5 separate regions of the Homo sapiens genome follow, and all the other regions are linked to region 5. Evidence: fine-mapped expression QTL. A gene starts in region 5. Each other region holds a variant in brackets. All regions are shown on one strand. Distances are from middle to middle.

The links. PIP is the estimated chance that this variant, and not a neighbour inherited with it, causes the effect. A credible set is the group of variants that fine-mapping cannot tell apart.
Region 1: its variant is the best candidate, but not a certain one, in a credible set for the expression of PLEKHA6 in thyroid (GTEx, PIP 0.57).
Region 2: its variant is the best candidate, but not a certain one, in a credible set for the expression of PLEKHA6 in cerebral cortex (GTEx, PIP 0.78).
Region 3: its variant is the best candidate, but not a certain one, in a credible set for the expression of PLEKHA6 in whole blood (TOPMed, PIP 0.74).
Region 4: its variant is the best candidate, but not a certain one, in a credible set for the expression of PLEKHA6 in skeletal muscle (GTEx, PIP 0.62).

The regions. Positions count from the first base shown.
Region 1 is chr1:204,279,026-204,285,045 of GRCh38, forward strand. The region is part of intron 1 of PLEKHA6 (pleckstrin homology domain containing A6); the gene reads right to left. Among named protein-coding and RNA genes, the nearest start is that of GOLT1A, 68 kb to the left of the region's middle. RefSeq lists a silencer at 3,690-3,893 and enhancers at 4,478-4,979, 4,980-5,479. The variant T/G (reference allele first, on the strand shown) is at 2,839.
Region 2 is chr1:204,259,401-204,265,420 of GRCh38, forward strand. It overlaps PLEKHA6 (pleckstrin homology domain containing A6), which reads right to left. Exons shown (of 23, transcript NM_014935.5): 6 at 5,542-5,642; 7 at 1,906-2,048; 8 at 1-340. Among named protein-coding and RNA genes, the nearest start is that of GOLT1A, 48 kb to the left of the region's middle. The variant C/T (reference allele first, on the strand shown) is at 2,636.
Region 3 is chr1:204,322,452-204,328,471 of GRCh38, forward strand. The region is part of intron 1 of PLEKHA6 (pleckstrin homology domain containing A6); the gene reads right to left. Among named protein-coding and RNA genes, the nearest start is that of PLEKHA6, 34 kb to the right of the region's middle. The variant A/T (reference allele first, on the strand shown) is at 2,479.
Region 4 is chr1:204,304,256-204,310,275 of GRCh38, forward strand. All of the region lies in intron 1 of PLEKHA6 (pleckstrin homology domain containing A6), which reads right to left. Among named protein-coding and RNA genes, the nearest start is that of PLEKHA6, 53 kb to the right of the region's middle. RefSeq lists an enhancer at 1-292. The variant T/C (reference allele first, on the strand shown) is at 2,789.
Region 5 is chr1:204,356,797-204,362,816 of GRCh38, forward strand. It overlaps PLEKHA6 (pleckstrin homology domain containing A6), which reads right to left and starts at 3,133. Exons shown (of 23, transcript NM_014935.5): 1 at 2,898-3,133. RefSeq lists enhancers at 416-1,343, 1,344-2,270, 2,386-3,021, 6,009-6,020.

The DNA of each region.
Region 1 (6,020 bases), 78 kb before region 5:
TCCCTGCCTAGCTCCCCCTTGAATACATAGCTTGGCTTTGATCCACCTTCAGTAGGACGGGAAGAAAATTAAGCTCATCTGCACAGAAGGAGGAGGGGGTAGGGGCGCTTTGGGAAAATGAGCTTTCTTCCTCTAGAAGGCAAAAATATCCCCTTTCACTTCAAGCTGAGCTCAGGGGCCTCCCACAGCCTTTGCTTAAGCTGCAAGTTAAATTACTTCTCCTATGCCCTGTAAAGATAGCACAAGGGAGTAGGAACGAAGGAAGGCTCAGGGGCTTCCCCTGCTCATCAAGAGCTCTGAACTCCTAGGAATTAAGTCTGCACACAGAATGTCTAGCAGCAGTTCTTTCCCTTTGCCAATAAACTGCAGAGTATGGCAAATTTTCATTTTAGTTAGACATCAAGAAGAACTTACAAGAGGCAGAACATTAAAAAGGGAAACAAGGACAGGTAATCCGTTTTCTCCTTCTTCTCTCCTTCCTTTTGGGATGTCAAAAGGCTTCCATTTGTCAAGGACAAATGATTATGAATCCATGAATACATACCCAAATGGACCTTTCAAATTCCACCCAAGAGAAGGGAAAATCTCAAGTGGTAAAGGAGATTGTGCGGTGGAGGTAGAAACAGCCCTAAACTCCAGAGCAGTCCAGTAGGTGGTCACTTATCCACAATGAGGGTGGCCCTGATGGCAGTGCCATCAGTGGAAACAAACATGGCAGGACCAAACATTCAGTCCAAGATCCAACCTGAGTTAGGAATATGACTTTATTTCTTGGGCCCTTAGTTTTCTCATGTGTAAATGAGGTACCTTCTAACTACATGAAATAATAGTGCTCACTTCACCAGCACAGACACTAATTCTATGAAATAATAGCTGTAAACTTGCAAGATATAGACCATTTTTTGCAGAAGAGATAATGGCTATGATCATTCTACTTAAAAACAAATTAAGATATATGCCAGATGAAGGAGCGAAAAAATGAAAAATACTTAGTCCCAGGCTTAAGAAGATCGTGTATGGGGCACAGGCTGGGAGTGCCAGGGGCAGGCACTCTGGAAGTCTCAAGAGCGATAAATTACAAAGAAAAGAAGCAGATCCTCTCTATTTTTCCAGGCCTTTGTCTCTGCACCTATTTAAAGCTTTCCTGTAGTTCAAGAGACATCCTCAACCCCTACAGTACCTCACATAGAGATAACTCTGCATTGCTTCATCTCCAAACATCCCCCTGGAGAGTCAGCCTCCACGTGCAGTATACCTGGCACTACACTGTCAAGAGTGGCAAAATTAATCCAAGTTTCACGATCTTTTGCAGGCATGTATGTTTACACATGCACACACACTCCCAGGCTGGATGCCCAGAACCCCACTGTGATCAATATTGAACGACTGGAGAAATACTCCACTCCTTCCACCCACTGGGCCTCTCTTGATTATCTGCTGTACACCAAGCTGCTTCATTTCCATAGCTCCTGAGAATCTGCTGACAAAGAATTAGCCCTGGCCCAGCTTCCCCATCCTGAGGACGCCTTGGCTTCCAGCATTACAGCTCATTAGGTGGAGAGAGGTTTGCATGCAAGGCAAGTGGAAAGGGGGTCCCATCCCTTCCACTTCCTTCTTTCTCCCAGCTAGCAAATTCCAAGCCGAGACTGTCCATGCTCCAGAGAGGATTTCTGCTGCCACAGAGGAGGGGAAGGTGGGGAGAAGGTTGGCTCCTGCTCTGTGCCTCCCCATCTGGATCTCATCATTATTTTCAAGGAGGCTTATCTGCTTCAGCATCCTGTCCCAATTAAAAACCAACTCAGTTTATGTTTCCAGCCATCTTCATGCACCTGATTCCTGAAGCTCCCCCTGCCATTTCCAGGAGAAAATACACTTTCCTAGCCACTTCTCATCAGAGGCCCTCTGTTTTCCTACCTATTGCTGCCACATAAAGAAGAGGTCAAAGAGGGTCAGGCCCTGGCAGCACTTCTAGGTATTTGCAGGTGGGAAGGAACCCCTCCAAACAACACTGCCTTAGCCAGGCATGGTAGCACATGTCTGTAGTCCCAGCTACTCAGAGGCAGAGGCAGGAGGATCACTTGAGCCCAGGAGGTCGAGACTGCAGTGAACTATGATCACACCACTGCACCCCAACCTGAGGCACAAGACCCTCGTCACTAAAAAACAACAGAGCAAGGCCCCCATCTCTAAAAAAAACCAAAAACAAACAAACAAAAAAGGCCGGGGGCGGTGGCTCACACCTGTCACCCCAGCACTTTGGGAGGCAGAGGCGGGCAGATCACGAGGTCAGGAGATCAAGACCATCCTGGCTAACACAGTGAAACCCTGTCTCTACTAAAAATACAAAAAATTAGCCGGGCCTGGTGGCGGGCACCTGTAGTCCCAGCTACTCAGGAGGCTGAGGCAGGAGAATGGCGTGAACCCAGGAGGTGGAGCTTGCAGTGAGCCGAGATTGCGCCACTGCACTCCAGCCTGGGCAACAGACAGAGATTCCGTCTCAAAAAAACAAAAAAAACAGAGTAAGACCCCTGTCTCTAAAAAACAACAGAGCAAGACCCTCCTGTCTCTAAAAACAACAACCCCTACTGTCTCTCTTCCATGTGCTCCTTGAAGATCAAAATACCAGTTCTCTGGGTGCTGGGAACCAGCTGCCAGTGGCTGTCACCCAGCCTTGTATTTGCTTTCACCTTTCTTCTCTGCCCTTGCTCATCCCCCCTTTGATGCCACAGTTATTTCCAAACTGTCAAGAAGATGGTACCTCCCTGCCCCAAGCCAGTTTATTGAAATGTTCTAAGCTACTCGGCTGCATGTCTAGGAGACAAGACTCATGCTGCTCCC[T/G]TTCCTGCTTCACTCTGCCCAGCCACACCGCACCCCCAGCCCCATCCCAAAACCTGTTATGGGCAGTTATGGAAGGCTGGGGGCCTTCTACGTGAGCTCAGCTCCCACCACAGGCAGAAGATAGAAGAGATGGCTCCGTGGACAAGGGAGAGAAATCACAAATCAGGGGGCCAGGTCCAGGTTTCTTCCCTTCCAGCTCAGGTGCTGTCCTTCCCCCATTTTCTCACTGTAGTGTCTCCCAGCCCCTGCTCTGGGCCTGGGTGGTCCCTTATTCCTATGAGAGGAGATAGGAAGGCCTAAGATGGCAGACTGAGGGCAGGAGGACAAGGTGTACTTCAGTCAGGGTAACGGGTTCAAGCTCATGTGTGTGCACGCACGTGTGTGTGCATGAGAGAAAACATGGATACTATACAGGGGAACTTCATCCTGACCTCCCACCCTAGCTTGGTTCATCTTTAAACTGGTTGTTTTACTTTAGGGAATTCCATCTGTCTGCTGAAAAATGAAGACAACCAGAGTAGATAGCATAACTCTGCCAGTGATTCAAATACTGAAGCTCTTCCATGTTGGTGGGTGAAAAGCTGCTCCCCCAAGTCCCTCGAGTGTCCCTGCCCCATCTCTGGGCCAGGGTCTGAGACCTCCTCACATCTCCATGACCCAGAGACAAAAGAGTTAATGCCTGGCACCACAGGGCCCTCCAAGACTCCAGGCCAGCATCCTTTCTGGTTGATGAATTATTGAATATCATTCCCGGGTACAGCCAGTCCTTAACTGTCTCAACACTGAAGTGTCTTCCAATTGTGGGGAACTGCGATTCTACCACCCAGAAGCTGCCATGGGCAGGCTGGGAGACACTTTCTCCTTCACCCTGACCCAAATTGGAGAACTGGGGCAATCCAGCTCCCTGGAGCTCCTCCTTGTGCTGTGTGCTCTTGTTCCCTTCTAAAGAGAGGGGGAATTCAAAGGAGAACCAGCTGCCTACAGCTCTGGGTTTTCCTCCTCTCAGCCTTTCCTCAGTAGCTAAGCCAGACAGAAGCAGAGAAAAAAGGCCCCAGCCCCCTCGCCTCCAAGTTGCCTTCTCCTGACAGCCAGCAATGTGGAACGGATCCCAAGGGGTAACAGGGCAGGGCAATAATTAATTATGCCCCCCCACCGCCCCGCCGCCTTCCAGCTCTGAGTTGAATCTCAAACCCCTGCCCTTCAGTGGCTGAGGCAGCCCAGCTGTCCGCCGCCGGGTCTATGGAAGGTCATTGAAACCATGTCTCTGCATCCCTAACTCAGCAGATCTGCTTCTGGTGTCCTACGGAGAGCAGCGACCCCACCCTGCCCCACCCAACGAAAGGAATTTTACAAAGTGGGTGTTTGGAGAGTTATGAAGCTGGCTGATCTCTCTCCTTCCCCATCCTCAAAAGCTACCAGTGCCTTCTTGGTTCCCAATCCAGCAATTTGAGAATCAAGCTGTCTGGTATCTTAGTTTTCTCATTTTAACAGTAAAACAATGGTATTGAGTGATGCCTTGTTGAGCAGACAACACAAATCTCCCACTGGACCAGAGAGCAGAGGAAGAAAGGTTATGATGCTCTGAAGGCATGTGGAATGAAGAGAAAAATAAAACGCATGCAATCTCTGGTCCTTACACTGGGAGGGAGGCAAGGAAGGCCCATTTTAGAATCAGGGAAGCTGAGGTGCATTGTCCCAGCTATAGTGACAGGAGAGGTCAGAAAAATTTGAGTCTTGGGCTCCCTTCTTTCTGTTCCTGCGATGCACCCAATCTGAGCTCCCTGCCCCTAGGAAAGCAGGAGAGAGCTTCATGGTTCAGGGGGAGATGCCAGCTTTTCAAGGTCTGCTCCAAGAACACAGTAATGAAAGCCACAAACTCTTTCACTGGTAATATCTGTGGGCTACAGGTCTGGGGACTGTGTGTGATGTGGGCTGGGGGCTACCCACAAACTTTAGTCTGACAACAGCTGCCTGGATGTAGGGGCATGGAAGGGCAGCCACACAAACACTGTCCACAGCCTGGCCTTTATTGCTGTGCCCCTGCCCAGCACCTCACACACAGGGGAACTGAATAACTGTTTGAGTTTGATGGAGCAGCTGTAGGGCAGGCCAGCAGGCTCACCACTGCCTGGAGGAGGGGGCACGTGCTGTTCCAGTTGGGATGCTGAATAGCGGCTGAAGGAGACAGGAGCTCAGCCTCAAATCCCTCTCGCCGGGATCAGTGTGCACAGTGCATCTGCTTCATGCCCCCTCCTGTCCCTCCCCTCCCTACTGGCCAGCCAGACTCTGATAAGAGTCTACAAAGCAGAAGCTTTGCCCTGGGAAGAGGAAAGCAGTAAACCAGCCAGAGCTGGAGAGCAGGAGCCTCCTGGCTGGAGGGTAGCACAGCAAGGGTTGAGGGGCAACAGCAGGCTCTAATGTAGTGCTGCTCCTCACCTGCCCAGGGAGACCCATTCTGCCTCCGGCCCCCAAGGAGGGCTCAGCTGATGTTCTCTCTCAGACTGGGAGTAATAGGGTAAGCTGGAGCCAGGTGGATTGTGGGAAATTATGAACACCTCCTTTTGCCAGGAGCAAGGAATCTGGAACTTCCCCTGTACTTGGGGAGCTTGCCAAGGACTCTGAGGGCAAAGCGATATCCCTGCACTGCTGCCTGCTGGTGGGGGATCCAAAGGGAGCCTAGGAACAAGGGCCACCCAAGGAACCAGCCAGAAAATGACTGTGCCTAGGAGAGCACTTGCTGCAGACTGAGACGATCCTTTGTGAGCTCCCCTGACGCCCCCGAGAGGAAGAGGGAGATCTGGAAAGGGACTGGAGAGTTGTGAAAAAAGCTGGCACATGATGGCAAGGAATGGACAGCGTGTGGATTGTCCTTAAGGAAAAGGGTAAGGCCGGTGGTCTCAGAGTCAGGAGTCTTGGTAACTGACCACTACTGAGTCACTGTCCCTTTCTGGGTCTCAGTTTCCCCACCTGCAACATGTAACGATACTGGAGTTGCTGGGAGGACTAAATATTTAAAACCTCTAGAAGAATGCCTGGCACATTGAGTTGTTTAGTAGTGGCTAATGTTATAATCATTAATAAAATAAGGGAATACAATAAATAGCACTATCCTAAATTTGCACCAAGTTGATAGCCACTAGCCGTATTCTATCTTGAATAATTAAAATTAAATAAAATTAAAA
Region 2 (6,020 bases), 97 kb before region 5:
CTGAGACGGGAAAGCTGTGCTCCCTGGCCGGCTTGGGGAGTGGTACTGCCAGCCATTGGGCTGGGCAGGCTGTTCCCCACCCCCTGGCACTCTTGGGCCCTCGGGGTAAGGGCTGCCCGGCTCTGAGGCTGGCTCCGGTCCAGCTGGGAGGCCATTGGCTTTCACCGGAGGCTCTTTCTTGACTTCTGGCCTCTCAGGCCTTCTCTCTGCCTTCTCACAGCCTCGGCCATCACCCTCCCCTCGAGTCTTGGCCTCTGGCTCAGGCTTAGGGAGGCTGTTGTGGGGTGGCTGCTGGTGGTGCTTGCTGGGTGGGACGTTCTCCGAGTCTGGCTTCTCATGGCTGCAGGATGCCAAGGGAGATGCTGTCAGTGACTCTAGCCCAGCATGGAGTGGGGCAGGGGGTGCCAGACTGGGAAGAAGAGGAGTGGGGAAGGATGGGCAGGGAGGTGGCTGGAACCAGGATTCTATGAACTCCAGTTCTGCTTCCTAAGTCCCACCCCTTCACCTTCTCGCTCCAGCCTGGGAAATTATTATACAACCTAATCCGCCCCTGCCCACACCTGCTGTGTTAACTCTGCCCCCCACGTCTTCTCTGCAGGTCATTCTCCACCCCACTCCCCTCTGTCAGTCTGCTTTGAGCCCAGCCTTCAAGCTATGGCATGACTAACCTCACCTAGTCTTGGTCCTCTCTGCGATCTATCCCTGACCCAGCTCCCCAAACTGGGTTTGCACTCACATCAGTAACTGTCCTTGATACTCCAGTGACAAAGGCTTGTCACGGGGCAGCTGTCTTTCTTATAGAAAGTTATTTAACTGCCAAGAGTCTTGGGCTCCTCATCAGCAGAATGGGCATAATAATAGCTCCCCTCCTAGGACTGCTGTGAGATAAAACATGGCGGGCACCAGGAGCAGAAGTTTCTGCTTTCAAACTCACAAGCACATAAACACGCTAGTTCCCTTCTCCAAAACACATTTCTTCCAGGACTGACTTTCCATGAGAATACAGGCCCCACAAGGGTAGGAACATGGCAGACTTTCTTCCCCTGTGTTCCTAGCACCCACTACAGTGCCTTGCACATTTATATTTACAGTAAGTATTTGTGAAATGAATGAATGAACTCTTGGAATTATGCCCCTTGGTTGAAGCGAAGATGGAAATTTGTGACAATTTTCCCCCTACAGCTTCCCAAACTCCACATATTCAAGTGGGATTGTTGAAACATTGCTTGGTAAACATTTCTAAGATATGTGGACTTGGAGCCTACACTGTGAAACCCCCTTTTCCTGGATCCCCCTTAGCACCTAACTCAAGACTCCACATCCAGTTAAGGGAGAGACAGACGCTGAGACCGTGGGTGACGGCGGGCGATGGGAGCGGCCATATGTTAAGAGTTTACTGCATGTTGAGTGTTTTACACGCACTCTGTGTAGGCCTCACAACAACCCTATGAGGTAGAGTTGTATTTGCTGGTTTTTGAGCAGAGGAACCTCGGGTTCAGAGAGGGTGAGTCCCTTGCACTGAGATCACGCTACAGCCAAGTGGACAAGGTGTGATTCAAACCTGAGTTTATTTTCCTCCAAAGGCGGTGTGCTTAACACACACAGCCGAGAAAAACCAGCAAATGACCCTGACCTCTGGCTCCTGGCCAGACCCCAATGGAACCTGGCTTTTCTCTTGGCCTTCCCGAGCTCAGAGAGAAGAGGAGGAGCTGGCTAGGGGAAGAGAGACTTCAGGCTCTGAAATCACTCAGCCAGGCCTCCCGCCTGGATGCAAGGAGACGGCTCACACATTCTCCAGGGCTTCAAGTAGGCACACTGGGATTAGCAATGGCCCAGAGCTGGGTGTGTCTTCCATTCCCCTCTTTATTCTTCCTGCACCCCCACACTCAATTCCCTGGCACTCACCTGTGCCGCACAGCTTGGGGCACTGACTTCTGGGCTGGAGGGATCTGTACTCGAGCAGCCTCCCCCATGGCCTGGATCCAGGCCTCTTGCTCCTCGGGGCTCTCGGCACTGAAGAAGTAGGTGCGGACCCCGGCATGCTCAGCCTGTGGGGAGAGGCAGCGTGTGGAGCTGGCCTCGGCCTCATCCACCCAGCACACAGTCACCTGTTGGGAGAAGACACCAACGCCCACAGAATGGGCAGTCAGTTGGGCCATTCCCTGCACCTGGGGCTCTTCCCCATGCGGAGCTCAGGAGCAAGGTGAAGAGGGCAGCTTGCAGCTACCCCGAGGGTTCCAGCTGGTACCCACGTATCCACCTTGGCTGGCTCTCTGGGCACCATTAGGCAGCCCAATAACCAGGTCAGCCTACTTGCCCCACCTGGGGTAATTAAAGCAGGAGGGACAATGATCACACCCATTCTCCCGGCAAATTCCATGTTTGATTTCAAAGGCAATGACCCCATGTCTGGGAGAGAGGACCCCCTGAGCACATGCCAATCTTAGCCCCAGCTTCACTGCTGAGAAGCTAGCACTGTCTCTTCCACGTGGAGAGACAGCCAAGCCCCTCTCTGCAGGCATGCAAAGCAGGCACTGGCATACAGATGGGGCACACTACCTAGTTGGTGGCTGCGAGCAGGTACTGCGGGCGGGAACCCAGAAGAGAGCTCCTGTCCAGAGGAGGGGTCCTCACG[C/T]GGTCAGAAGGAGGAGAAGCAGAGAACAGGTCAACCAAACACCAAAGGGAGAGACAGAAGACGACGTGGCAGGAAACGGTGAGGAGCACAGGGAAGGGGGAATATTCAGATTGTCCTCTTCTACTCAGCATTCCCCCGGGAATGGCAGCACCCAACAATGCCCAGTTCTGCCTACCAAGGGGTGGGGAGTGGAGAGCTTGCACCAGGGAAATTCAGGCTGGTGGTGGAGAGTGAGTCAGGGAATCGCAGTGCTAAGCCTGGCTCTGCTCCTGACCAGCTCTGCAACTGCAGACAAGTTGTGGTTTTGCTCTGGTCTTCACTGATGCATCTATTTCACGGGAAAAGAGTCTGCCTGGTGAAATTCAAAGTTCTTAGGCCACAAGGAAAAGAGGCCACAGGACTAAATGCTTTCTGGGACCTCAGCACACTTCCCAGTGAGATCCTCAGTAGCCTAGCTTAGCCCACTCAACAGGGGACATCTAGCAGTGATTCAGAGTCTCGGATGTGAGCCTCACTCCAGCCTCTGACCCCTTGAGCCCTAAATCCTGGGTCTCTGGGGGTTGAGATAGCTTCAGGGCTCCCCTGAACAGCAACGTCAAGCCCACACCCTCTAAATGCTCAAAAGATTCCTCAGCTGCAGCTGGTCCCACCTCGCCTCCACCTGTCCCCAGCCCTCATTTTCTTTCTGACAGGAGCCATTACCCAGCAAGAGGCAGGGGTGGGCCTCCTTCCTCTGGTCCCCACCCTCCAGCAGAGGGCTTAGCATGTAGGTGTGGGAGAGGGCAGGGGAGGTGTTGACAAAAAGCCAGTGAAGACTAAGAAGCTGAGACTTGCGACGGATAGGGGATAGAGAGACCAGGGGCCCAAGCAAGCCTTCTAGGTGGAGAACACAGGGTTATTGTAGAGCGGAGACACACAGGCAGGGCTCGTGGGTGTGTCCTGGGGTGGGTGGGAGCGGGCAGCAAATGAATTCATCAATTCAATGAGCATCCAGGGAGCAGCCTGTGTGTGCAGAACTCGCTGGGGGCACCAGTCACAAGGAAGGCAAAGACAGGCTCTTGCACTTGAAGAGCTGACAGTCACGCTGGGGGACAAAACATGCCGCGGGAAACAAGGAGAGAGCAGAGGCACAGGGACAAGTGCTGTGACAGGAGAAGGCAGAGGGCCTGGGAAAAGACAGGGCCATTGATGGGGAGTGGGTAGGGGCGCTGGCCTGGAACTATGAAAGGGGGCCAGAGAATTGAGGGAGCTGTCCCAGCGGGGCAAAGCCCCCGGAGCCTCTGTGGGGCCAGAGTTAGGGAGAGGTTAAGGCATTCAGCGGTAGCCTGGGCAGGAACAGTTCCTGGCTCATTCTTAGCCATCCAAGAGTTTCGCTCGGTGGCCACAACAGGACAAGCCTCCCATCTGTCTCAGCTCCCCTCCCTTCCCTGGGGAAGGGCCATGGAATAGCCACAATCAGAACCCTTTGTGGGCCACCGAGCACAGCCCTCAGAGTCAGGTTTAAAAGAGGCAGCGCAGTGTGGGGGAAGGAGGCGAGGGGCTGGTGGGCAGAGAGGTGATATCTGGGATCTGTGGTGGAGGGAGTGTGTCAGTCACTCGGGGATGTTTATCTCACGCCTGCTGCTGGCAGAGCTCCGAGCTGGAACGTGTCTGTGTCTCTGCACAGGTCTGGTGGGGAGGGTGAGACAGGCTGTTTGATTGTGTGTGTGGGTGTGTGTGTGTGTGTCTGTGTATAACAGGACTACTTGTTGTTGGTTAAACAGCCTGTTCCTATTTCCCCAGCTAGAACTGGCTCCCTGGAGTCAGAGCTTTATTAATTGTTCATTCTCTTCACACCTCTGGCATACAAGACCCCGGGAGGCTGGAAACTAATTATGTGCCAAATAAGTCCTTCCTTGCTCCCTGTAGCGGGCCCTGTGCATGCTGCCCAGCTCTCTTCTGTGGCCAGGTGACTGGAGCCTGAAGGACAGGAAGGGACAGAGTCCCTTCTTCTAAGGCTCTAGAAGCTCAAGGAGTGACCTACAGATCCAGTCATCTAATATCATAGCTTTGAAGGGTCTTGGACAGCAATTGTCAATTAGGGGAGAGAGGGCTTTGTACCAAGAAAATGTGTGGTTGGTATTATAATTTTATATTTGGAAAATGAAAAGGGACCTATGATTTTTACATCATAAAATACGAAAGGGCATGAGATTTTTATAGTTTCTGATGGGTCGTGACTTTTTAAACGTGGAAAAACACTGGCCTAGGATGAGCCAGCTGCAGGCACATCTTTAACGGGTGGCTCCCCAGGGGTTCAAGGCAGTGATATTGAGCAGGCAGGAAAGGCCCATGTTCCTGTGCACTTGTTCTCTCAAATGGTTTCTTCGTAAGATTTGCAGCTCTTGTGGAATGAAACTCAACTTCTAATATTCGTTAAAGATTGAAATTTGAGTAACTTTGACTTGGGGGTAGGTCCAGTTTCCTGAAACCACGGTGGGGAGGAAGCCTTTCCAGAAAAGGTCTCAGAACCCACCAGCCACAGCTCCTGCCTCTGCCCAGAGGGATTTCCCAGGGGCAGGAACTGGGCAAAAAGTCCAAGGACTAAGAACATAACTATTCCTGCCCCAGTAACAATTGTGGTGCTGCTGAAACACATCTCTACTGGCCCACTCTTAGGAGAATTGCCCACCCAACCCCCAAGAGAGGAGGAAGGTCCCAGCATAGCCTTGCTCTAGCCTTACAAGAGACTGTGCTGAGTCTAGGGGCCATTACTACTCCTCCTCCCCCAACCCACCACCACTGCTATGGCCACCACCACCTGGGATTCCTTAGAGCGATGGCTCTTGGCCCTTCTCCATTCCCATAGGCTCTAGAAGAGCAGGCCTTCCTTCCCCACCTGCCCTGGGAAGGGAAGGCCAACTGACCTTAAACGTGTGTTTCCGGCTGATGTTGTCTGAGGGCTGCACTGCGGCTACCCGGAAGCTCAGGAGGGGGATGCTGCCCAGGATACTCTCTTCCTTCTCATCTGTCAGGGAGAGAGGCACAAGAAGGGTGTGTGTGTGTGTGTGCAAGCGTGTGCGTGCGCCAGGGGTGGGGAGGAGTGTGTTGTCCCTCCCTGATAAATATCAATACATATTTGTTGTTCACCTCCTGTTTGTCAGGCACTCAGGGCCACCACACATGCTCCGAGAGGACACTCCCTGGAGTTAGGGAGTGTGGTGGCCCTGGAGATGCTGTTCCAGACACTGGGACTACAGAGGTGAGTAAGAGAGAAGTAGTGCCTACCCTAAAGGAATTTGCATTCTAGTGCACAAATAAACAAAGAAATAACAGCTGATATTTTGGAAGCGTTCAGGCACTGTTCTAAGTGAAATGCCTTCATGGATTTAATCCTCCCAACAAA
Region 3 (6,020 bases), 34 kb before region 5:
CAGCTCCCTGGCGTGACTTGGGAAGCCAGTGGGGTCGCACAGCAGGCTGCTGCCATCCAGCTTTTGCCACCTTCAAAGTGCCATTAGTGGACAATAGAAACTGGCTGCTTAGCCGGTGGTCTCAGGCAGTCCCAGGCCCCCATAGCTTCAACCGCTGTCACTATTATCCAGAGCTATCAGCCGCTGGGATTCTTTCCTTAATGGGCAGGCAGCAGATAATGGGCCTCCTGTGGTCTACTCTGCACCAGCCATAATCACACTCCTCACACATGCTCCTCCACATTCCCCCAACCAAGTGTTTACTCTCTCAAAACCCAATTGTAGCTACTGCCCATGTAAACTCCTATCCTACTCCTTTTATTCTGGGGACCACTCTTCCCACCCCAACCAAGCTAACTGGCCCTACGCATTTTGCAAATTCCCTTCTTGTCCCATGGCGTATCATTCTGTGGATGCAAGGTCTTCCCAACCTAAATCTAAGTCATCTCTTCCAGGAAGCCCTCCCTGATAGACCATGCCCAAACCTGACCTTCCCTTTGCTTTGCATTTCCTTGGAACTTAATGCCTTCCCCGCTTTTACATTGGTTAGAGCCATTTATGTCACATTTATTCATTTGACAAACATTTGCTAAGGGTCTACAGCTATGTGGCAGGCATTAACTGTGTATCTACTATGTGCCACAGCACACTGTGCTAGGCCCTGACACTCAGTGCCCTCCGGGAGCTTGCACTCATGTTAATTATCTTCAGAGCCTTGCCTGGGGGAGGCCCCCCTCTGCACTTAGATGGGGCACTCTCCCAAGGACTGTCTTCTCTTTGCTCCATCCTAGCACCTGACATTTAATAGGTCTTTTGCATCGTTATCTCATCTTATCTCCGCAGCACCCCTCAAGGTAGGATGGAGACACTGAGGCTCAGAAAAGATGAAGCAACCTGTCCAATAGATCCCAGCTGGTTACCAGCTGAATCATCAATAGAAATTCAGGTCCTCTGACTCCCAAGGCAAGTGGCCTTTGCCCCACAACATGCAGACTAGGATCACTGAGAGCTAGATGGGACCAAAGTGATGACTTCTCAACTGCTGTCACAGCCAAATGGACATTTCGGAAGAAAGAAAGCTAATGTGAAATTAGAGGGCATTATAAACTGCTTGTGTAACTGGAAAGCTTCAACAAGGTTGTACTTGTATTCCTGGTGCATAATAGGTGCTCAGTATGTGTTTGTCAAATGAATAAACAGCTTACTAGAGAGGTAAATGGCAGAGGGTGTAAGCTACCTAGTATTATAATAATAGCTATCTATTGAGTGCATACTTGTGTGAGGCATAATTCTAAATGCAACTCATTTGATCTTCACAACAGCCTTTTGAGATGGTTGTTGTTATGACCTCTGTTTTAAGATGAGGAACCTGAGACAAAATCAGGTTAAATATCCTGCTTGAGGATGGAGTGGCAGGACTTGGAAAGGACCTGGGCAGACTGACTCCAGAGCTGTGCTCTTCAAGTTAGCCCAGTACAGTTCATCCATGAGATCACTCAATTCTAATTACAAGCATACTGAGTGAGTGTTCTGATGAGTGCTGAGTGAGACCTGAAGTCACACTTCTGCCCTGGGCCCCAAGGTTCTGCTTGAGTCTGCATGAGTCACTCCTAGCTATGATGAAGTGCAGTAAAAGTCCAGCCAGTAGGGATGTGTTTCAGCTGCACGAGGACTTCAGGAGCCCTCTTTGGGGTCCACATCCCAGAATCTGACTTTGATTGCTCTGACTTTGATTGCCAGGCATCCCTGGTAAGAGTCAGGGCTATGGATCGTGAAGGGATTTTGAAGATGGAAGGAAATTTTTAGTATCTCAAAGGCTGAAGTAGAGGATAGAATAGGGTTTGTCACTGGGCACAAAGACATGCTGAAAAGATTTATAAATAGGATAAAGAAAGGGGCCTCAATGAATAAGCCCTTTATGGGATAGGATACGAAGGGCAGGGCTGGGCAATAGGAAACTCCAGCTCTGGCTACTTTGCAGCCCCCATTAGAGAGGCAGCTCGTGATGAGACAGAAATGTCTCACCATCAATAAGACAAGGAAAGGAACCAAATGAAGAGAACTTAGAAACAGTTTTCTCTGAGGTTGAGTTTCTCTGACAAAGTCTTATCTGAGAGGGATACAATTCAGAAGAAATGAGTGAAAGTGGAGAGACTATTCCAGAAGTCACAAAAGCTGAAGGCTTTATGTCTAAAGGTGCTGAATTGGAAGTCGATTAGGATCCTGGTGTTTTTATCTGACCTGAGGCCAATAGCTTACTAAACCTTCCATAGATATCAGTTTCTCCATTCATTAAAAGGGTATTGGGTCACCTGTTTGTGTCTTTGTCCTTTGGCTTAGGGACTGTGTTGGATAAAGGAGACTGGAGATCACATGATGCCTGAGTTACTTAGAAGAGAGGAGATGCAGGAATACAGAATTTTATTTATTTATTTATTT[A/T]TTTTTGAGATGGGGTCTCACTTTGTTGCCCAGGCTGGAGTGCAGTGGCGTGATCTCAGCTCACTGCAAGCTCCACCTCCCAGGTTCACGCCATTCTCCTGCCTCAGCCTCCCAGGAATACAGAATTTGATCAGAGCTTTCAGCAAGGGAGAGGCAGGAGCCACCTCCACACTGTACTTCAGTTACCCCAATTGCATTTAGAGAGATGCAACTATTTTGATTGTCTTAGAGCTCCTGAGAGATAGGAAAGTCTAGTGTCAGGCACCTTGGGTAGGCAACGTTACTTCCCAGTTATCTACAAGTTCAGCTCTCTGGGGTCAGCCCATAGAAAACGAATGCCAGGAAGAAATGTTTCCTGCAATTAAAGCAATAAAGAGAAATGCAAACTGGGTTTAGAGGGCTGCCAGGGGGAGAATCCTTAGGGACATGGTGGTCAACTGTCCCAGTTTGCCCAGGACTTTCAGTGCTCAAACCGGGACAGTCTCAGGCACACTGAGAAAAATTGGTTGTCCTACCAAAGAACTCACGTAAATAAATATCTGGTTTGACAAAGAACCAATGGGCACCACATGAGATCTTCATGCTCAGAAATATTGAGAGCTCAGGTCCCAGGACTAGGAGCCCGAATGCCCAGCTGCCTGCTTGGTGAGCCCTCAGCACACACGTTACTGTGGGCAAGTACCTGCCTCGCTGGGCTTTGGTTCCTCTATAAGATCTGGATGGGTTTTCCTTCCTATCTGGAAGACAAAATCCTATTAGAAACTTCTAAAGGTGCTCAGGACCCTGAGCCCTGAGAAAGTTCCTTATTGGTGGCTTCTTAGAGTAGCCTGTGAACAAACCCAGGAGGCCTTGGCGCAAGACTCTACTCTGCCTGTCCCTAAGGTCACTTAGTCCTGCAGAGATCTCAGGGCCCAGGCGAACAAGGGGTGGAAGGGCAGCATGGGGAGAAGTAGTAGCTGCCATTTCCAGGCTGCCAAAGCCAAGCACCGCTGGGCTGCCATTAACATATAGACTGGGCTGAACACAAAAGGGGCAGAGTCCCTCTGCCCACAGCAAGCCCCATTCCTCACCCTGCCCAGCCGTCTCCCTAATGCATCCAGCACAGGGAGCCATGCTTCCCCTGGCTTGAGACCACTTAATTTTCTCCTAAGCTGCTTTGTGAGGCAGGCTCTGAGCACTCCACGTGTCCAGTCCTGCTGTGGCCAACTTTCTCCATGGCTGAGGGCAGCTCCAGTTCCATGCCCCCTTCTGCCAGCTGAAACAGAGCCCGGCTCCAACAGTGCCCTTCAGTTTGTGAAGACCAGAGGGCACAAGTAGACACTCAGCTCCTCTCTCCCTTAGACCCAACCAGCCAGGAGAGTGAAGCTTCTCCCTCCTGCCTGTGCCAACACACGGTCACGTCTTAGCTCATCAAATGTTCTATCAGTGCCCACTATGTGCAAAGCACTGGCAAAGAAACAGAGACAATCGAGACCCATATTCAGAACCCAAAAAGGGCCATGAGAGCACAGATAGACAGAGGCTTCCCAGCTCTCATTCTAACAAGACTTTGCATGGCTGCCCCAGTCCATGCCACCTCCCAAACCCAAGTGAGCACCACAGAGGCATGGAGACAAAAGAGAAAGAAGAGAACCAAAAGCCTGGTTAATTAATTCACAAAGCAGTGCTCCAGGTGATAGATCATTGAGCCTTACACCCTCTCACAACACATTTCTAGCAAATAATTTTTGCTGTCCAAGCCCTAAATCTGACTGCTAGGGATTAAGCTAGAGAATTAAGAGTCGGAGGATAAATGTAATCAAACCCCTTTCCTTCTCCTTGGTTGGTTGGTTCATTCATTCATTCCATATATATTTTATGAGTGCCTTCTGTGTGCCAGTATGGAGCTCAGCACTAGGACTTGACCTCACTCAGCATTCACTGCCTTTCATCATCCTTAGACTAGCTCCCTCCTTCCTATATGATCCAAATAGGGTGAGGAACTGCTCACTGCCCAAACCCTGGGGCCTCCGCACTTAGGCAGGGAGTGGTCCAGGCAGAAGCGCGCTGGGTACGGCAGCCTCTGTAGTAGGGATTTGTGGACAAAGCAGCTACTTGGGTTTCAGCCTCTCCCCAGTCTCTCTCCATCCCCTCCTCCTCCTCCTGGGATAGAAACCCTGCCACTCTCTGCTCACATGCTTGAGTCACAAGGCTGAACTCCCAGCAAAAGAAGTAGCTCAAGGATGTAACAGGCGCGAGCCCAGTGAAACAGAAATACAGTATTTCATTTTGTTCACTTTGCACCATTCTTCCTCGTTTAATGCCCAAGAAAGCAGTACCAGGGCTTCCTGCTTGTTTGTCCTTCCTACCTCTCCCACCCACCTGGCGCTGAGGCCTCACTCCTGATTTATCCCCAGCTCCATTCCTTTCTGTCTCCCTCTCAAGGCCCACAGAGGGTGTCTTGTGTCTCTAGTGCCCCACATGTGGAGAGGTACAGGAAGTAGACAGCGATAAGGAACTAGCACAGGGCAAGTGAGCCTTGATGCCGACGGGCCCCTTCTGGGAGCCCCTTCTTGGCCTGCAGTCTCTGGCCCGCTGAGGCCCAGGAGAGCGCTGAGAGCCCCGTCGTTGATTGGCACCTTGCAAGCAGACTTCCTCATCTGTCCATGCACGTTGTGGTGTCCAATGGTCTAACTGCAGATTTCCATCTCTGATCTGCATGGGCAGATGGGCGAGCGCTGTGCCAGGCCCCAGGGGACCACAAGCTCCTGGGGAGGAGGCACAGCCACCTGGCTCTCTAGACCAAGGACTCAGGGGGCCTGTCTCAAGGGCAAGAGACAGCCCAGGCCTCCAAAAGGGAAAAATACAAGAGCAAGTATAAGCCAAACCCCAATCCTCTCTCCTTTCTTCTCACTTGCTCCCATTCCTAAGGAAAGGACAGGGCAGGTATCAGAGAGCTGGGATGGCTGGCTTTCCTTTCCCATTTGAGGCATATCCTCTGACTCACTGTGTTTCTGAAAGCCAGTTCCCTGACTTCTCTGGATAAAACCTCATTATTCTCAAAATTAGAGCTGGAGCCCTGGCTGCTTTCTGATGACCCTGGCTGGGATAAAAAGGAAAGAAGCTGCTTTTATTTATTTTATTTATTTATTTATTTATTTATTTATTTATTTATTTATTTATTTATTTTTGAGACAGAGTTTCACTCTTCTTGCCCAGGCTGGAGTGCAGAGGCGTGATCTCGGCTCACCACAACCTCTGCCTCCTGGGTTCAAGGGATTCTCCTACCTCAGCCTCCTGAGTTGCTGGGATTACAGGCATGCACCCCCACGCCCAGCTAATTTTGTATTTTTAGTAGAGACGGGGTTTCTCTATGTTGGCCAGGCTGGTCTCAAACTCCCGACCTCAGGTGATCCTCCCGCCTCGGCCACCCAAAGTGCTGGGACTACAGGCGTGAGCCATTGCACCCAACCCACAGTCAATTTTCTTTCTTTTTTTTTTTTTTTAGACAGAGTTTCGCTCTTGTTGCCCACGCTGGAGTGCGATGGCACCATCTCGGCTCA
Region 4 (6,020 bases), 53 kb before region 5:
ATTCAGGACAAAGGGGAAGAGGAAGTGAGAGTACATTCCTTCACCGGGGGCCTGACCCTGGAGGTAGAAACCTCTCACAAAGTAAGAATGGAGAAAGACTCAATATGTTTATCAGTTTATCACATTCTAAAGACCCGCAGGGAAAGATGGTAGTGACAAGATCAGAATTCAAGTTTTCAGAAATCTGCCCCAAAAGTGGCCTTATCAGGGACAACCAATATAAGATTGTCAACTTTTAATTTTGCTAAATAAGGATATTTTAAAAGCCTGATTACCATCTACTCTCACCATCAGCTCTGAAAAAGGATAAGCTAGTAAATATTTCAGCACATCTCCTGCCCCTAAAAGATGTCTTCTAATACATTTTGCTTTCTGAAAAAAATTGGTAAATTTTCCCTATTTTTCTTATTTTACCTCAGACTGGTGAAAACTCTGTCACAGACCAAAACTTGGGAATCACTGGGCCAGAAGACAGCTCCATGTCCCTTTTAGCTTGAGCCTAAAAATTAAGAGAAAGATCCTACGCTTTTGGGATTCAGACCTTCTAGAAAACCTGAGTAGGGCAGGTATGGAAGGGAGGGGGAAATTAATACACATACTATTCTTTACTTATATTAAAGGCACTCTGTCAATTACAAGGCACTGAACAAACATTGGTTGTTATTTTATAAAGCAGGTGTCCAGTGAGCATCTACCACCCTACTGAAACCTCTTAAATTTCTGTGAGCCCCTGAATTTTACCATATCCTCGCCTGTTCAAATAATTCAGGGACAATAGAGAAGAAGGCAATCTACTCCAAGTCAAGAATTACCTGAGGAAAAAAAGTATGCCTCTGGTGCGTGGTAGAGAGCATCAAATTGGCAACGTAACAGAGACATAGACCCAGTGATGCCATTTCAATTGCACGATGAGGGGGCCCAGAGAGGACTGGTTCCATACCAGGGAGCAGTTTTCCACTCTGCCTTCCCTATCACTGCTTCTTTCTCATTACTCTGATGCAGAAAGTATGGGGGATGAACAGGTAAAGGAAAGTGCGTGCATTGCTGGGCAGTGGGGTAGAGGGAGGTGCATGCAGTACTGCGGCACGCTGGATTAGGAGTTGGATTCTAATCCATCCCTCCTGCTGACTAACCATAGCAGCATCTTTTGGCTCCAGTTTCCTCATCTATATTGTAGGAATATTTTTCCCATCTTCCCTACAGGATTGCAGGTAAACTGAGAGACCCTTGAAGGCAGATCCAGTTCTTTTCCATCTCTCTATACTCAAAATCTAGCACACTGCTTAGGGAAGAAGAGGGATCAGTAAACACCTGCTAAATTGAGCTAGAATGGGAGTGTGGGTATGAAAGCACACTTGGTCTGAGCTGCAAAGCACTGTACAATTGAACAAAAGGAAGAAATTATGACACTCTTTTGGCCAAAATTATGCACAGCAGCATCTACCAACTACATAAAGATGCTATGAATTCTATTTGGAAGTAGGTGGTGACATAAATAAAAAAATGTTTAATGCCCATAGTTTCAAAAATAACCAGACTGTACAACCTATTAATTGTATTGCCTAATAAATGGCTGTGTGATTGCCTTCTAAATTCCATTGTACTATATGATTTCTTAGGCTTAAAATGTATTTTTGTTGCACTTTGCCCATCCCGCATCACCTCTCATACATTTCTCCCACTATATTCAGAAGTCAGTAGGCAAACGGTGGTTTTCTCACCTATTCTGGATTATATCGACATTGAGAGTTGAGATCACTTGCCTGGCTGCAGCTTTGGAATGTGTCAGAGTTTAGGACTCCCCAATCCCTCTTTTTGTTCCTTTCCATCCACCCCATATTCTTTCTCTAGCTTTCTCCACCACATTCCTCCTCCAATGTATATCTCACCACCCCAAATCTGCTTTTCAAAAACCACCTCCAGCCTCTGGCTCTGTCCCATTGAGTCTGGGCCACCCACCATTCCTGCGAGATCCTGCCTCACAGCATGTGCTGCCCACAGGACCAGTGACTGCTCAGATGGCAGCCAGGCCAGGCTGCCCACCCACCAGCCCCTGTACAAGGCAGTTCTCTGATCTCTGCTCCTTGCCACCAAGAAACACCACACAAACCCTAGGAAGACGGGGCCACATTCAGCCAGCCTTACCCACCATCCACCAATCACCTGTCTCGCCCAAATTTCTGCTTTCAGGCAAAATGCCAATTCCTCCTCCCCCTCTTCCAAGGCTTTGGCCTCCATCCTGCCCAATTCTGAGGCACTGAGAAGAAAGTGCTCCTGCCACTTGCCCCTCATAGCTTTGATCCCTTGGGTTGGTTCAAGCTAATTTCACATGGAGACCATGCTGGAATGCATAAGGATCTCACCTTCCCAACAGACAGCTTTACAGGTAGATTTATAAGAAATGTTCCAGGACATAAAGATAACAACAGTAGATAGATACCGGGGACTCCAAAATGGGGGATAAACCTATTGGGTACTATATTCACTATTTGGGTGACTGGTTCAACAGAAGCCCAAACCTCAGCATTATGCAATATATCCACGTAATGAACCTGTACATGTACACCATCCCCCACCATCTAAAATTAAAAAAACAAGTGTTCTAAGCACCTACAAAATCCAGGGCTTACCCTAGGGGCATCAGTCCTCTGGATACACATGGGTTGTACTTATGTCTCTAAATTCCCTCTGCAGCCCCCTACCCCCAAGGGAGAAAATAGTCACCTTCTAGAAATTAGATATTTTCTTTAACTTTTTAATGAGAGACCCCGAGGAAGATGAACATTTA[T/C]GCAATATTCTTATTTGCTAGAAGAGAAAGAAGGGATAAATGAAAAGAAGAAGAGGTAAAAGAAAGAGGAAGAACAGGTAAAAGATTTGCTTCCCAACTATTAACAGAAGTACCTGCACCACACACACACTCACACACATTCACTCTCACACACTCACACTCATTCATATCTGCCTTACTGTGAAATACTGCTCTTTGCCCAACATGTGAGTTTTTCTCCCGGGTCCTCTCCACTGAAAGTTTGGCTGGCCCCAGATCTTCCTAGCGGAGATCCCCAGGACCCTAGATTTTACCTTCCATGCCAGATGTCAGGACCCAGCTGGGAGACGCAGACTGCCGACTGAGAAGGAGTGAAGCAATACTTCTGATCGGAGAAAGCTGCCGAGGGTGGCGGATGCACTGCCCATGAGAAGGAAGGAGACAGGGAGAGAGCCTGGGATTCCAGAATTCCCCCAGCCTTCCAGGAAGACTCTGGTGTCAGCTCTCTCCTTGCTCCAGCGCTAACTGAAAACCTAAGGAACATCTCCCAATAAAGCTGGCTCTGAAATCTGAAACTGCAGGTTGGCCAAGTCCTATATAAACACACTCACACCCCCAGTTCCTCGGGTCTGATGGCTTACCCGCCCTCGCGTTCCCCTCACTCCCTACCCCGCCTGCTCATTGGAAACATCAGACAGCCCTCTAGCTGCAGCAACTCCTGAAACCCTAAGCTGAGCTAGCCCAGCGGAGCTGAGCCCAGAGGTGCAGGCACTGGGAGAGAGCCCTGCCAGGTGCTCTCCACTGTCTCTCCCAGCCCCAACCCCTCCAGCAGTTCAAGTCCAGGTGCTTAAGTGGCACTCAGGATCGAGGCAATAAGGGCAACAGGCAAGTCTGCAGCTTAAGAGCAGAGATTTTGAGACTATTCCTCCATATTAGGGAATATTCTCCTAAGGATCCGATTCTAGATAACTGGGTCTGACATATATAAATGGCTAAATTTGTCTTCCTCACCTCTCCCAATTTTCTGCATATCCTTCTTATGGAGCTCCCCTTTCTTTTGTGCTTCCACCCATAATAGAATTAGGCCAGGTGAGACTAGGAAGGGACTGTAGCAATTGTAACAAATGCCTCATTTTGCAGATAAGAGAGCTGAGGCCAGGATGATGACATGGCTTGGCAAAGCCAGGGAGTGACTCCCAGCCCGATTCGGCATCTTGGATGGTAGAAGGAAAATAAGAGGCTTACAAGTCAGATGGGCTGGGCAGTGGCTCATGCCTATAATCTCAACACTTTAGGAGGATTGCTTGAGGCCAGGGGTTCGAGGCTGCAGTGAGCTATGATCCTATGATCATGCCATTGCACTCCCACCTGGGTGACAGAGCGAGACCCTGTCAATCAATCAATCAATCAATGTCAGTTGGAACCATGCTTTAATACAACTAGATACTCACTTGGACCACTGATTGCAAGAAAAAAAAAATCACTTAACCTCTCTGAGCTTCAGTTTCCTTATCTGTAAAATGAGGCTAAGGATCCCATCTGAGTCACAGTAAATAAGGTAACATGTATACAGGGGCACATGGTAGGCACTCAGTAAATGCCCATTGCTCTTCCCACTACCTCCAGTCGCCAGCTGACTCAAGAAGGTAATTCTTTTTCTTTTTCTTTTTTTTTTTTTTTTTTTTTGAGACAGAGTCTGGCTGTCGCCCAGGCTGGAGTGCAGTGGCACAATCTTGGCTCACTGCAAGCTCCGCCTCCCGGGTTCACGCCATTCTCCTCCCTCAGCCTCCCGAGTAGCTGGGACTACAGGCACCCACCATCACGCCCGGCTAATTTTTTTGTATTTTTAGTAGAGACGGGGTTTCACTGTGTTAGCCAGGATGGTCTCGATCTCCTGACCTCATGATCCGCCCACCTTGGCCTCCCAAAGTGCTGGGATTACAGGCGTGAGCCACCACGCCCGGCCTCAAGAAGGTAATTCTAAATTGCCTGTAGTATTTACTGTTCCTCCAGTGGCTGGTTTCATGTTTCTCATTCATTGTCTTTCTGTCACTCTATTAACATCCATAGTTTACTTTGTACAGTGCTCAGCATGTAGTGCTTCATTTCTGTTAAGGGAAATATTTGACGTGCAGGCTGAGGTCATAGACAGATTCACACTGAAGACTCCCTGCAGGTCTCCCCCGCATCTCAACCTCCAGGCTCCAAGCTTCAGTCCCATGAGCCCAACCACCTACTGAGCATTTTCCTGAGGGTAACCAGACTGAACCTTAAACTCAGCATGCTACAATCAAATTAAGATTGACCACCCACTGACTAATATATCATTGTACAATCACACGCCGCATAAGGTCGTTCTGGTCAACGATGGACCACATATACAAAAGTGTTCCCATAGGATTATAACACTGCATTTTTCCTGTACTTTTTCTATATTTAGGTACACACATACCACTGTGTTATAGCTGCCTACAGTATTCGGTACAGTAGCATGCGGTACAGGTTTAAGCAATAGGCTACACCATAAAGCCTACGTGTGTAGTAGGCTATACCACCTGGGCTTGTGTACGTACACTGTCATGTTCGCATGACAACAAACTTGCCTAAAAATGCACTTCTCAGAATGTAGCCCCAAAATTAAGTAATGCATGACCATATTGAGAAGGAACTGTACAAGATATGGTAAATGAAGATAGTATCAATTTAGTATGATGCTTCTTGGACTAAGAAATAATTTATGTTAACTACCAATATTATATTTGCCTAGAGCAGGAGTCAGCAAACTTTTTATGTAAAGGGTTAGATATATATTTTTAGCTTTGTAGGCCATACAGTCCCTGTTACACTCAATGCTACCATCATAGTGCAAAAGCAGCCACTCATAAGTAAACAAATGAGCAGAAACAAAAAAGCATAGATGAATGAGTGTGGCTATGTTTCAATAAAACTCTACTTGTGGACACTAAAATTTGAATTTCATGTGTCACAAAACATCATTCTCCTTTTGATTTTTTTTTCAGCACCAAATATAAACCCCATTCTTAGCTTAAGGGTCACGCAAAATTAGGTAGTGGGCTGGATGTGGCCCATGGGTCACAGTTGGCCGACCCCTAGCTTACAGCCTCTCAGGAAGGATGTAGCAGACACTGGTAACAGTGATCCTCTCCAAGGAGGGGACTGGGCATAGATGAGAGATAGATCGAGAGAGAGACTTTCACTGAATACTTTTCTATATTGTTTGACTACTATGCAT
Region 5 (6,020 bases):
TAGGTTTTTCTACATTTTTAAATGACAATGTATTACTTTTACACTCACAGAATAGTAATTCTTTTAATGTACACCCTTCATCACATTAATTCTATGCCTTGGAATTTATCCTAAGTCACCCAAAACACAGAAAGAGCCTTATGAACAAAAATGTTCCTCTTGTGCTATCTGTAAAAGGAAAATAAGGTAACAACCTAAATGTCCAATATAGAAATGATCATGTAAAATATATTACATCCACACACGGACTATTATATACTATTTTAATCAAAAGAAAACTATTTTTATGACCACGTAAAAGAGAGAGGTGACTTGTTCTGCACAGCTTCAAAGAATCAGAACCAGAGGGTGGAACTTAGAAGTCGGCAGATTTTGATTCAACATAGAAGAATGTTCCAGCCACAGAGGAAGCTGCCTTGTGAGGTAATGAGCTCCCTGTCACTGAAATTATCCAAGTGAGGCTGCTGCTTCTGTCAGGGAGGCTGAGGAAGGCTCATCTGGATGTGGAGGGAGTCTGGACTAGATAGTCTCTGAGGGGCGTCTGAAGGTTGTAGGTGCTGAGCAGGAGCCCCCTGAACAGACAGATGGTCAAGGGAAGGCTTCCACTCAGCCTACCCTCAACTTCTTTTCCTTCTGCTCCCAGTTACTCTAAATGTCTCCCAAAATATAGTCTTTTTTTCCTCTCTGAATGTGCTTTAAGTGTTTGGAGACTGGCCTGCTCAAGTCCCCTCATTAAGCCCTGGCTTCCTGAGCCCGTTCGCCTCACCCCAGAGCTCAGGGGAGTGCGAATCCTGCAGCTCTTTTGTGAGGCACAGCTCCAACCTTCCTCTGGGGGGCCCCATGGGTGCGCCAAGACCAGTGCCAATGACCTCATCAAATTCACAACAGGCAGTGAGGAAGACGATGAGGAAATTGGCTCGGAGAACGGAACCGCAGCCTGTTCAGCACCAGTTGACACCACGCTCCCATCTGCTGTTGCGGCTTCTTCACTCTGGCCTAGGCCAGTCCCCTGGGCCAAGAGAGCTCGCTCTATGAGCCCGAGGCTGCAGGCTGGGTCTGGGCGAGGTGGGGGCTCTGATGTCAGCCCGGGAGCCAAGGTGGCTGCCTCCCTCACTGACTGAGGGATCAGTAATTATTTCATTTACAAGCAGAAATAATCCAACTCAATAATCCAGGCAGACACATTCAAAGTAATTATCTGTGTAAGGCGTCCTGCACCATCACCTTCCTAGGAAGGAGGAAAAGAAGCCTAGCCCAGCAAAAAAAAAGCAGGTGGGGACCCCCATTGTCTGCAGCCTGTGTGCAGCAGCCTGCCAGGATTAATTACACACCAGTGCTAACACATTTATCACCTCGCCGCTGATTGGAAAACCAATGACTTTTAATAATTCATATCTGTGGCTCGGCACTCTGTGCCCTTGTGCAAAGACACAGAAACTCGCTTGTTTCCATAAGGAAAGCCCAGTGGCAGTGCCAGGAGGGGTGCCTTCAGCCCCTCCTGCCACCCCAACCTGGAGACAGGCCAGAGCCTAGCCGCTCCCACCTCCCCTCCACCAGCAGGGTCTGCTCATGTCCTGCTGAAGCTAAAATGCAGCTGCTCGGGGGTGAAAGCTGGCGACTGAACCGTCCTAGCCACAGGAGCCCTCCTCAGTTTCATACTCTTCCAGGGTGGCCTGGAAAACAGGATTTGGGAGATTTGTAGGGCAAGTGCCCGCAGTGCCCCCGCACCTGCCCAGACAGTGGGCTCAGGCAGATACCTGCCAGCCAGGACCCTGCCCCACCATGCAGGAGACCCTCAGCAGAGTGCACCACTCAAGTGATCAGATTGAGGGTAAAGGGTCTACAGGGCTTTGGGAAGAGCCTCCAATCCCTGAAGGCTGCAACCTCCTCTGACACCAGCTCTGAGCTCCAGCCTCCTCCCCACCACCTTCCACCCTCCTGCAGCTCTCCCTCCCCACCCCTGTGCCCCGGGGATGGCTCTCCCTCTATCCCGGTTCTCCATCTCTGCTCTCCCAGGCTCCACAGCCCCCTTCCCTGCCCTGGCTGGCCTGTTGTCTCAAAGAGCATTTCCCAGGAGCCTCTTCTCCCTTCTTCTCCCTTCTCCCCCACCCCCGCCACTTTCCTGTCTCGCCCCGCTTCCCTCCCCTTCCACTGTAGCCCTCCTTACCCTTCTCTGGCCAGTCCCCCAACTGTCCTCCTTTCCTCAGACTCCTCACACAATACCTCGAGGCTCTTAGCTGGCTGCAGCCTGGTCCCATCATTATAAATGCCATCCCCTCATTCCCTGCCCTCCTCTACCACATACCAGGCTCCAGCTCCTTCAAGAGCTCCCCACTAAATCTGAGACCCCCAGAGCTCAGATGCGTCCTAGGAATTGGAATCCAAGAGCCTCTGTCACCCTTCGACCCAACCTCTGACTCATAAGAATGATACACACCCTGACCCCTCCCCACGCTGAGGAAGGTGAGTCCCTGGGGCTGACCTGAGCCTGACCCTGGACCCCCTCCCTCTCTCCTTCCTGCTGGCAAGATTAAAGGGAGGGTGGGCTGGCCTCTCTGTGCTAGCTTGCGTGGGGGACCCCTGCTGGACCCTAGGAAGCTGCCAGCCCCAACGCTGCCTTCATCCAGGAGATGCAATTCAAATGTAATCAATTTAAACAGCATCAGCCCTGACAGGGGACTCTGGAGGTGGGGGTGGGGGCACAGGGAGGGCTATAATTAGCATTCTCAGCATCCATGATCCCCAAGTAAGGCTGCCAAGGATGAGAGATGGGGAAGCCAGTGCTCCGCAGTGCAAGCAGCCCAGGCTCACGCGGCAGACAGGCAGCTGCCAGCCCTGACCAGAGCCCAGCCTTCCTCCTCCCACCTCATCTATGTGATGCATGAAAACAGACTCACCGGCTTCTGAGGTGTGATCCCCGCGCTGGAAAGCTCTAACTCTGCGAGCCCCAAGGCACCCCTCCCCCCAGCTCAGGCCAGCTGGGGTCCTCCTCCCCCGCCCCTGGGGCCCCCTTCTGCAGAGCGGGGCTCCGGATCTAATCTGATCTAATCAGTCATCTCTCCGGCTGGCAGGTCCCTGGCGCAGGGAGAGGATGCTGTTGTGGTTACTGCAGGATCCAGCATCTTTCCCAGGCAGAGGCAGCTGGGCATGCTCCATCGGCTCCCCCGGGGATTTCAGGGCCACGTGACTCTCCCTCCCCAAGCTGTCACTTAGGATCAGGAGTAAATAGTCCCCGAAAAGGTTTAACTCCATCCACACCAGCGACAAGCTGCTAACCATCCACGCAGCCTGCCTGCCCGGGAGAGGATGGGGTGGCTCAGCACAGCCTCCTGGGCCTTCCACCACCAGGAGAAGGCTGCCCCCCAAAGGGGAGCAGGGCCACCGTCTGGGTAAGCTGCATTTTTAGAGTCCCCCACAAGAGACTGCAGGGAGCCAGAAACTGCCCAGGGTCTTAGAATCATGTGTGGGGCCTCACCCAGCCAGCCTGGTGATCACCTTTCACCTCTGTGGCTGTCTACTCCAGAGAGGGGCACGTCTCTAGGTGTCAAGAGGGCTTGGCTGGGGCCCTGGGGCCTCCCCATCCCCCGCCCCCCCCCCAATATGGTGAATTTAGAGAAATAACATTTGGAGAGGGTTGGGGGCCACTATGAGATGCCAGGATGAGTGGGGTGTGAGTGGGTTGTGGAGCCACTGCCCCCACACCAACCAGCCAGGCTCCTCCCAGGCCCTGGGAGGGAAGTCTGTGCTCCTGTTCCTTCCGTTGCACATTCCTTTACAGATAAGGGCTTCAGTTGGTAAAAATGATATAGGTACTCAGATCACACTAAGACAGACCCACTTGTATTGGAGTCGAGAGGCTTAATTTTTTAATCAAGTTGTTCTAATAATAAACAAAAAATGCAATTATCAGGTGAGTGGGGCCTTGCAGAAACCCTTTCTCTAGCTCCTGCCCAAATCGGTCTTGATAACCCTGAGCAAGGATGCTAGCCAAGCTACGGGGTACCTGGGTTCTGTATTATTCAGGATCAGAGGCAGAAGGAAGGACTTCAGACAATAGGGTCGTAGCTCTGTTTCTGCTTAGACAAAGATTGCTTTCTGCCTCAGTTTCCCTTTATCCACATCTCTCTCAGTTTTCCTCTATCCACGGATTCTCTGTGACAATGGGCAAGTGTAATAAAAACACTGATTTCATAAACAGGATCAGAAAGATGGAAAAAACCAAAAGATTCCCACCTCAACCTCCAGGCAGGCTCGCTGGTCTCAGTCCCATCTGCCCCTTAAACCTGGAAACTGGGGACTGAACCAGATGAGCTTCTGGAGTCACTTCTGAATAGAGAAATATGTCAAGAAGCAGGAGCTAGAGAAAGGGTGTCTGCAAGGCCCCACTCACCTGGTGATTGCATTTTTTGTTTATTATTAGAACAACTTGATCAAAAAATTAAGCCTCTTGACTCCAATACAAGTGGGTCTCTCTTAGTGTGATCTGAGTACATATATCATTTTTACCAACTGAAGCCCTTATCTGTAAAGGAATGTGCAACGGAAGGAACAGGAGCACAGACTTCCCTCCCAGGGCCTGGGAGGAACCTGGCTGGTTGGTGTGAAGGCTGTGGCTCCACACCCCACTCACACACACCACAGCATTGGAGGAAGACAGGGACCTAGAGAGCTACTGAAGGGACTGTCTTTCCCACCCCAGGGCAGGCCAGGCTGGAGCCAGGAATCTGGGGTTAGGGCAGCAGGCGCAGCTCAGCAGCACTCTTGGGGAGGGGGACTCTTGGTCACCTCCCACTGTTCCCCTGCCCAGCTGAGATGTCAGGCCAGCCCTGCATTGGCTATAGGAAAGCTGCTCTGCTGAAGGGGCAGACAAGTTGTGGATGAGGGCCCAGTGCCAGGCAGGACCGATCAAGCCCAACTCACCTGCCCTGGCTCTCCAGGACTTGGCAAGGCTGCCAGGTGCAGGCAGGGGGAGAGTCTGCTTTCAGTCAGCCAAGATGAGGGGCTCTTGGGGGTCTCTGACCCTGCGGAGCCAGTGGAGGAAAGGAGTGGAGGCAAGAGATTACAGCATCCCAGAGGGAGGCCGGGGAGGGGGACAGAGACCCCAGCCCAAGCCCCCACAATCCTCAGGCAGCTGGAAAAGGCAGGCGACCAACAGATGGGCCTGCTGGGCGGGTTTCCTCTCTGGCAGGCAGAGGGCAAGGGCCGCAGACGAGTCCCACGGATCCTTCGAGAAGCCTGAGCCAGACATGTGAATGTTTCTGGGGGATCTGAGTAGCTTCAGGGGCATGAGAAGCCAAAGGGAGGGTCGGTGTGGGGTGCATGCCTTTAGCTGGGGGACCAAGGCGGAAGAGATGTGGTAGCATGAAGATCTTAGAGCTACAGCAAGGACAGGTGAGGCGGATGGACCAGAGATAATAAATTCCCTTTGCCAAATCTAAGTTCTTGCTCTGCGAGCCCAGAAGAGGAGAAGCAAGCCTCACCTAAACAACTCCAATGGGGAAGGCGTGAGGTGGCGTGAGGGAGGGAGGATTCCACAGAAAGCACCTCTGCGATCCCGTCTCTCCTCTGCTCTACAATCACTGGTCCCCATTGCTCAGAGGATCAAGTCCAAGCTTCCCAGGCACCTACTCATGGTCTCCAAACACACGGGTCCTCCCCACCTTTCTGGTGCCATCCCCACTCCCTACCATACAGTCTTGGTGGCCACTAACTTGACTGGCTCACTGCCCATTCAGTGGAACTGCATCCACATGGGTCTCTCTTCCTCGCAGAACATGCCAACTAGGGGCAGCAAAGGGAGCTCCGTGGGATGAACTAGCTCACTGCAGCCTCCACCTCTACCTGGGCTTTAGCAATCCTCCCTCCTCAGCCTCCCAAGTAGCTGGTACTGCAGGTACACACCACCACATGCAGCTAATTTTTTAGTTTGTTTTACAGACAGAGTCTTGCTATGTTGCCCAGATTGGTCTCCATCTCCCAGGCTCAAGCAATCCTCCTGCCTCAGCCTACTGAGTTGCTGG